Regions from separate parts of the Homo sapiens genome. Here region 1 is linked to region 2. Evidence: fine-mapped expression QTL. A gene starts in region 2. The other region holds a variant in brackets. All regions are shown on one strand. Distances are from middle to middle. Region 1 overlaps NPR2 (natriuretic peptide receptor 2). Region 2 holds the start of GBA2 (glucosylceramidase beta 2).

Region 1 (4,387 bases), 58 kb before region 2:
ATGATTCAGATGCTTCGATGTTAGTCCCTTTGTCTCCCTCTCTTTCCCTATGATTCCCATAATCACTTTCACCCTCCCTTTCCATGCCCCCCTCCCCATGGCCTGCCATCACCTTCATTTCCACATCCCCCCGAAGCTCTAGCTGGAAGCATCCTAGCTCATCTAGGGCATCCTTGGTGGTAGAGGAGACATGGATCTTCAGCGCTGGGGTGGGTGGAATGGGGAGGATGGTGGAATGAGGAATCAAAGAAAAGGCAATCAAATAATTGGTGATACTGTATAGCACCGTGCCCGACCAACCATCCCTGGGAAGCTCCCAATGCATATCTATTAGGACCAAAATATGCCCAACCTCCCAATGCATATCTATTAGAACCAAAATATGCCCGAGGATGCGACACTAAGGAACTGTGGTCTCTCAGATTAAGAAATTGGAGGGATTATGAAAAGAAGAAAAGGGCAAGATAAATTGAGGCCAACAGTGGGGTTGAGGGCTAATGTCTTACCTTGACCATTAGACTCCATTCGAGAAGCAGTGTTCACTGTGTCTCCAAAAAGACAATAACGGGGCATCTTCAGGCCAACAACCCCAGCACAGACTGGCCCTTTGAGAAGAAACAGGTTGGGAGAGTCTGGGAAAGGTGGAGACTAGGGCTGGAGTGAGAGTCAGCCTTACCAGTATGGACCCCTATGCGTAGCCTCAGCTGGTCATGGGGTCGGTGGCGGATGCGAAAGGAAGAAACTGCATCTAGTAATGCTAGGGCCATACGAGCAATTTCTGGTGCATGGCGTTGACCATTTCGGCCTGGGAGGCCAGATACCACCATGTAAGCATCCCCAATCGTCTCCACCTGATTGAGAGGGGGATTAAAAGGTCACCTCTATTTATATCCATGGGGATGGGAAAAAGTAGAGGGAGACAAGCTTGACACCATCATTAATCATCCTGACATGCTGGAGACCAGAATATTGACTAGAAAATAAGTGCCATGGTCCTGAGTCTAGGGGAGAGGAGATGTCTAGGGAATCTTTAAGTCTTCTTTCTCCACCCAGCACCTGGTGAATACTCAGTAAACATTTGCGGAATGAATGAACACCCTGTCTGCAGCAGGACATGGACAAATAGGCTCTGCCATCAGGAAATGGGAAGCAAGAAAACGGTAACTCAAGAGGACAGAGGCTGGTGAGGAGGTAAAGCAGGCCCAGTGAAATGGACCTGACAGCCCAAACTGTCAGAGAGGAGGAAAGCAGGCATTTGATTTTGGTAATTGTGCCAAAGCTATGTAAGAGAATAAATGCCATTGTTTTAAGGAAATACACAGTGAAGTTTTTAGGAAATACACACTAAGTATTTAGGGATAAAGTAGTTATCCCTAAATAGTAGTCTGCCACATGCCAAACAATGTTAGGTACTTTCCATACAACGAATCTATTATTCCCATCTTACAGATAAAACAACTGAGGCTCAGGGAGATTCTGTGACTTACCTAAGGCCACACAGTTAGCAACAAGCCAATATTCAAATCCAGATGATTTTTACTCCCAAGGACAATAAATCCAACTCAATAACTTCAACAAAAAGTTTTACTTTTTAAAATATATTTTCCCTCACCCCACTAAATCAGTCTGGACCCACATCCTATATGATTCTTCCATGTCTGGAGAGGACTGGAGAGAAATGTTGGATAGGCTGTATTTATACTCCAGGAAGATAGGAGCTAAATCTCATGATGGTTCTGATTAGGGAAGTCAAAGGATTCACAAGAAATTCGACTGGAGTGTACAATTATAGTGCTGGAGCTACATCTGTCTACGAAGTACACTCCAGCACCAGGATGCTGAGTACCCTGGAGGGAAAACTGATCATGGGGTGGGTAAGGTGTGTGGGGTTCAGGGAGACTGAGTTTCAAAGCGGGTCTCTATTAAAGGGTCTTCTATTGAACAGC[GGCCCCAGCT/T]CTCACCTTGTAGACATCAAAGTTGTCAATTATGGCATCAAAGCAGGTATACAGGTCATTAAGAAGTGTCACTACCTAAAAGGGATAGAAAAGCAGAGGCCCTGAGACTTGTGCCCAATTTTCTAAGAATTCTTAACCCACAAGCCATCAAAAGATGTGGGAACTCTAGAACAAACTCATCTTTCCTATTATCAATGAGGCTTCCCCAGGTCCCTACCCACCCAACCCCACCCGCCACCTCTCACCCATGGCTCTCACCTGCATGGGGGTGCTCTCTGCTGACAATGCTGTGAAGCCAACAATGTCACTGAAGTAGATGGTAACACTGTCAAAGGCCTCAGCCTGTACAGTCTCTCCCCGTTTTAACTGCTCTGCCACTGAACTAGGAAGCAAGGGTGCCGTATGAGCCAAACTCCAAGAGAGCAGGAGTGGAAGAGAGAGGGAAAGTGTATGTGGCTGCAGCAGAGATGAGCTGTAACAAGAAAGCTAGGCTTTTCAGGTGGGAGGGAGGAAAGTGGCTGGGAAGACATTACAGTCTAATGCAAGGTAAGGCACACAAGTGGCGGGGGGGTTTGAGGGGAATCCCTGTGCATGGGAGCTGTCTCAAGTTGGGACTGTTTTACATACACTTGCTGAAGCAAGGGTGTGGTAGAGCAGGGTCTTAAGAAGAAGGGATGGGCAGCCAGTAAGAAGGCAGCATAGCTGATGTGGAGACAGAATGACAGCAAATAATCTATAAGCAGGGGTGCTCCCTGTGGCCAGCAGGGTTCTGAGGGTGGGGAGGCGAGTTCTCAGGTGCCTGATGAGGCAGAGCCCAACAGAGCAGAATCCCAAAAGAAAATACAGGAAGGGGGACAAAGTCTCACTGGGGTAGGATTTGGTAGAGCAGAGCTTCAGCCTTGCGTTTTTCCTCCAGATAGGCCTGTGTGCGTTCCTCCACCAGCTTCTCCAAGTTATTGGCATACTGTTCCATGCGCAGCAGGAGGTTGTCCAATATGCTGGTGCCACCCTCCCTAGAGGGAGGCCAGGATAAGGCACTTGCTCTAAGATTCTGAAGATTCCCAGGACTTCCTATCCAACCCACCCTCTGGTCCCACCTGCCCCACTTCATGCACTAGGACTAATGAGTCTTCTATCCCTGGGAAGCCCCTGCCCCATAATGCCCTCTCACTTGTTAAAGCGCCGAATGAAGCCCTTAATCTGTCCAAAGTCTGGCCGCTCAGCTGGGTCCTGAGCCCAACATCGCTCCATCAGCAAAACTAGCTCTTCATTCAGTTGGGTCCGGTCAATGCTTGGCCGGAAATATGGCCGCTGACCATTTCGTACCTTCTGGACAATCTCTGAGGGTGATCAAAGGTTTGGATGAAGAACAGAGTTCCCCCAGGAAGAAGAGGCTGTGGGTAGTGGATTGACTCTTACCTTTGGGGCTGAGGTCCAGGCCCTCCAAGTAGAAAGGACCACTGCGAAGTGCTATCTCCTGCAGGATGATCCCAAAGCTATAGACGTCAGCCTTCTGCATGCCTGTGGTTGGCAAGGGGTTCCCACTGAGCAGTTCTGGGGCAGTCCACAGCTTCTCTGAAAAGAGGAAACCGGCTGGCCAGGTCCCCCGAAATGGGGCACCCCCAAGCCCACCTGGGCTCATCCCTATATTACTGTCACTCCACCTCCCTCTCCCACCATCCCTAGGTGGAAAGAGGAGCAATATAAAAAGTGGGTTGTGGGGGTGGGCCTCACTGGCATAGAGGGCATGGCTGTCATCAGGTTCAGCAGTTGATCGGAAGCTGGCCAGGCCATAGTCTGTGATTTTGAGCACAAAACGACTATCCACCACACAGTTGGAGGACTTGAGACTCCCATGCGATGAAATAATGCTGTTGTGGAGAAAGGCCATGCCCTGCAGGGTACAGATCAAGTCATGGGATTGGATCATATCTGGCTTAGAATACCCTCTCTCCATGAGATGGGCACTGGCTAGCTGTCTACAGATCTTGGGTCCACAAAAATAATAAGCTGATTTTGGAAGGCATCCTTTGCAGTTTCCACCCAAGGAAGCAGGAAGAACAGAAGAGTCATCTGTTCCTGGTATCATAAGCAGGACACAGGCACCCAGCCACCAGGGACAGGGAAAATGCTTAAAAAGAGGGATAAGTGGAGCTACAAATGACTACCCTGGAGAGGGCAGTCAATCTTCTTGATTAGTGAAGAGAACAGAACTTGGGTGAAGACCAAAATGATATAACACCCATGGTGGCCTCAGATACCTGGCTACTAATTAGGAAGACATGACTTGAGACCCAGGTATCAAGAGTAGCTGGATATACCAAGGAAGACCAGTTGTAAACTTTAATGCATAACCAGGCGTAGGTGGGCAAGTCGGGGTAGAGGAGGAACAAGATCTACTAGAGGGAGGTGGGCAGGTCGGGGTAGAGGAG
Region 2 (4,387 bases):
TATCTCCAGAACCCTCCCTCCCTTCCCAACTCCCTAGCACTGTCACTGAGACCAGGAAGTTTCCCTGCAGTCCCTCTTGCAAGCCCTCTAAGACAATTTCTGCTTTGGCATCGCCCTTCCCCAGCCCTTCCCTCCAGGAGCCCTTGCTTACCAGTCAGCACAAGAACCCTCAGAGGGACTCTGAGTAAAGTGATAGGGGAGTTGACACGCTGGCAGCCAATGGTCAGTTTGTAGACGTACTTGACTGACTGACCCCGAAAGGAGGGTGGTCCCTCTATGGGCAGCACTTCACTGTAGGAGTCTGGTTGGGAAGTAGTTGTCAGGACAGCCAGAGGCACCAGAGGAGTCCTCCCTCCAGGAGACTTAGAAGGCAATTCAGGGATGGGGACAATCACTCACATGATTTGGACTCTCCAGGATCAAGCCTCAGGTCACAGAATAGAATTTTCGGTGGAGTAGAAAGGATACACTGGCCCCTCTCACCTGAAAAAGGTAAAAATGACTAATTTAATGACCCATTGTCCAGTACTGAACAAGACTAGCACGGCAAGTGGAGATAGTGAAAGGCTGCCAGGCCCTCCGTCCCTGCTGTGAAATGGGAATAGTCTTCTACCCCTAAAGCAATAGTCATGCTCCCCAACATCCCCAGCATGACAGGGACTATAAGAACAAGAACAATTAACAACTTCACCCATGGGTGACAATGCCTCCACACACACCCTCCGCACCCCCCCTCTCCCAGGCAAATGCCCCTCTCTAACCTCGGTGTGGCAGAAAGACAGTCTGGCTGTCGGGCTGGACATCTGGCTGACTAGAGTCAGGAGGAGGCAGTGCTACTCGACTCTCACTGGCATGGAACTGGCAGTGGATTTGGGCACTGGCCCAGGCCAGGGCCTCACTGTGGGAAAAGGAAAAGGAGGCATCAGAGGTAGTTCCTGACCTCACAAATGCTTTCCCAAGCTCCCTATCACACCATCTTAACCAACAAGGTTAGATGGCTGTCCTAGTGATCAGGAAATCCACAATCCCAAAGAGAAACCATTAAATAAAGAGTAGCAGACTGTGCGTAAAAAGGGGAACGGGGGAGGGGAAGGAAAGCGTACAGCTATGTCATCCACATCTTCTGTTAAAGAGCCCTCTCCTACAATGACAGCACAGTGAGCAAGAGGAGGTGGTGTCGCTACAGGACAACCTGAGCTCTGCCTCAGCCCCAGAGATAATCTGGCTTCTTCCCAGAAGGGCCACCACCTTCAGTGCCAGCATCCCCACCTGGATGCAGAAGTGGCCGTGGGCGGAAGGGGGTTGGTGACGGTCACTACACACTCCAGCGCCTCCCCAGCCAAAAATACAGGACCCCGGCTGAGCTCTGCTACCACTTCAATCATGGCAGCTCCGGAATCAGATCTAGAAGGAAACAAGGCGGGGCGGAGGTCAGCACCTTGACAGGGAGGGGCGTTGCGGTGAGCACCTAGGGCTGAGGGCTGAGGACAGGGGTGGTCAGCACCGTGGTGCCCGAGGGAGCTCCTGGATATAGGAGGGGTAGGCGGGTGGGAGGGAGGCGACTGAAGACTCAGTACTGCCCAGGGGGAGGACATCGCTCTGGGCCCTAGACCCCAGCCCCTGTGCGACGGGTTCTTCTCCCTGGGCACCCCCGCGGAGTTCCCAAACTGGCCTCCGCTCCCCCTTTCCTCAAAGTTCCACGTCCCAGCCCAAGATCACCGCCGCTAGTCACCTCGCATAGTCGACACTAGGGATCGGCACCCCTAGGCCTCATCTGCCCGCCCCTCAGGGACCTGGCTAGGTACGCGGCGGCGGCGGCGGCGGCGGCGTCCGCTGGGCGGTAGAGGCGGGACTTCCCTTCGGTCCCCCACCCTCCGCGGAGTCCCTTCCGGCCGGAAGCGCCCGGCAGGCCAGACCGGAAAGGGCTCGGGTCATCCCGGCGCCCAGGGTCACCTTCCCACGGGCTGGCACCTGGGCGCGGGCGCTGCCCCGGAGCCGGCCGGCGGGACCTGGCGCCCAATCCTGGGGGACCCGGTGCCGTGGCCCAGGGGCCGGGCCGAGGTCCCGGGGGCGGTGCCTTGCGGGCCCGTCCCGGGGCGGTGCCTGGTGGGCTGGCCCCGCGGCTCCTCCCCTCTCTGCGGGCCCAGTCGCCCTTTGGCCGGGCGAGCTAATCGTCGGCTCAATGACGACGAGGCCCGACCCTTCCCGTCCAGGACCTACAGAGACAACCGAAGGAGAGCCCAAGGCGGCTTCTTTGCTGTCGCCGCCCCCACTGAAGCAAGAGCTCCCCGGCTCCACTGAAACACCAGCTCATTTAAGCTTTCCCCAACGCCCGGCCCTCCGGGACGATACCTAACAACGACCGGCGCCCGCATCTGGAATAGGCTGGCGAGATACTTAGTATCCGAGGGCTCGGGACTTGGCGCCATCGAGGTCATGGGGACCCAGGATCCAGGGAACATGGGAACCGGCGTCCCAGCCTCGGAGCAGATAAGCTGTGCCAAAGAGGATCCACAAGTTTATTGCCCTGAAGAGACTGGCGGCACCAAGGATGTGCAGGTTACAGACTGTAAGAGTCCCGAAGACAGCCGACCCCCAAAAGAGACGGACTGCTGCAATCCGGAGGACTCTGGGCAGCTGATGGTTTCCTATGAGGGTAAAGCTATGGGCTACCAGGTGCCTCCCTTTGGCTGGCGCATCTGTCTGGCTCATGAGTTTACAGAGAAGAGGAAACCCTTTCAAGCTAACAACGTCTCCCTAAGCAACATGATAAAGCATATAGGCATGGGCTTGAGGTGAGTAGACCCCATTGCCTAGAATGCCTTTGGCTTCACTTTGTTCCAGCTCAAAACTTCTAGCAGAGGTGGGAAAGGGCAAGAAAGCAGTTGGGCTTCTTGTCTGAGTGAAGCGGTCCCTATCCCTGGCATATTTTAGGCCTGTGGTTTTGGACCGTGAGACCAGGTCACATCTCTTTGCAACACCCTTCCCTCCCAGTGTTTTGTCTTTTCAGAAGGAAAGGGTAGGAACATTTGGTCATGCAATCAGCCTTTCCCATTCAGGCTCTTCTCACATACTGGTTTCCAATGACTTCCCTTTGGGATTAGCTATACTTTGTGGCAAGGTAGGAAAGGATAATCTGGCTGCTGTGATACTAACACAATGTTGTTTTATTTGGGGGTGGGGGGGTCTCAACCCCTTATTTCCCACAAGCAGCTGGGGCATTCTCTGTACCTCATTAGACACACTGTTAGAGTCCCAACACTACTGCTTCTTTCTTCAAGCTTTAGCTCCAGGGAGTAGGTAAGAAGAGCCTCCCTGCCCTCACCTCTGAAGTGATGAGAAGGTGCTGTCATTCTGTTCTGGGATAGAGAGCTCTTGATATTAAGTCATTTATCAGAGAGGCACTGCCATAGATGTAGAACCCATCTAGATCCCCACTGAGTTCAAAGACTAGTGATGAGGAGCCAGACCCATTAACAGGAACAGGTGGATGTGAGGACAGAAAGCATCACCCTGAGGTCATCCTGACTCAGTCTACACAATACACACAGAACTGTGGAGGGAGGCATAAAGCTTGGGAAACCCTGCCCTTACAGTTTCTAGAGTAGGAGACCCTTCATTTCCCCAGTCAGTGCTGTGGGGCTGTGATGGGGAGATCAGTTATCTAACCCTAGCCCTGGGGAGTGGGAAGGGCCTGATGCTGCCTGCACATCTGGCTTTGTTGGTGCCTGTGGGTAGCCTGTAGCAGAGAAGAATCATCCCTCCAGGCTGCTTCTGGAATCAATTCAGTCCAAGTTTGACCCCAAAAGTTTTTGCATCAAAATAGGATCTAGTGTACATAGAGAAGTACACTGAGTTGCATGTGGTAGGAACAATGAGATCAAGAAAAGATGGGCATCCTAGCCTCTTAGCCCTTAAATATGAACTGAGTCATAGAGGCCTGAAGCTGTGCTCAACCCCCTGGACCCTGGCTCCCCATTCCAGGATAGAGTGGGGGGTACTGATACAAGGCTTTTGGAATAGGATGAGTTCCTATGAGGAGAAAGCACAGGTGAGACAAGAATTCTAAGTGATAACTCTTGAGTTGAGGTTGAAATTGTGGAGAAGGCCAAATAGGTCAGGAATGGCCAGCTACCATATTAAGGGAGTAAGAGAGCTCCTAAGATGGAGCTGAACTGTGGGCACTCTGACCAGGAGCTCTAGCAAGACAGAATTCTCTGGGTCTTACCTTCGTAAGAACTCAATTTCAATTGTTCTCCCTTCCAGCCAGAGTCCACTCATTCAATAAATATTTATTGAGTGCTTGTTCCATGCCAGATAGTCCTTTGTTCTGTCTGTCCTCATAGATTGCAGTTACTCTCCCTGGTTGCCCTAATCCTCGGCCACA

What was found. PIP is the estimated chance that this variant, and not a neighbour inherited with it, causes the effect. A credible set is the group of variants that fine-mapping cannot tell apart.
Region 1: its variant is the best candidate, but not a certain one, in a credible set for the expression of GBA2 in whole blood (TOPMed, PIP 0.90).

What each region holds. Positions count from the first base shown.
Region 1 is chr9:35,804,973-35,809,359 of GRCh38, reverse strand. NPR2 (natriuretic peptide receptor 2) reads right to left here. Exons shown (of 22, transcript NM_003995.4): 13 at 3,690-3,849; 14 at 3,375-3,530; 15 at 3,127-3,295; 16 at 2,822-2,968; 17 at 2,214-2,337; 18 at 1,962-2,030; 19 at 677-851; 20 at 507-605; 21 at 113-204. It also overlaps a transcript of SPAG8 not described here. Among named protein-coding and RNA genes, the nearest start is that of SPAG8, 5.1 kb to the left of the region's middle. The variant GGCCCCAGCT/T (reference allele first, on the strand shown) is at 1,947.
Region 2 is chr9:35,746,754-35,751,140 of GRCh38, reverse strand. GBA2 (glucosylceramidase beta 2) reads left to right here and starts at 1,913. Exons shown (of 17, transcript NM_020944.3): 1 at 1,913-2,795. The coding sequence starts at 2,437. It overlaps RGP1 (RGP1 partner of RAB6A GEF complex), which reads right to left and starts at 1,854. Exons shown (of 9, transcript NM_001080496.3): 1 at 1,733-1,854; 2 at 1,270-1,404; 3 at 762-898; 4 at 400-483; 5 at 152-301. The coding sequence starts at 1,385. RefSeq lists silencers at 1,565-1,614, 1,645-1,694, 1,815-2,214.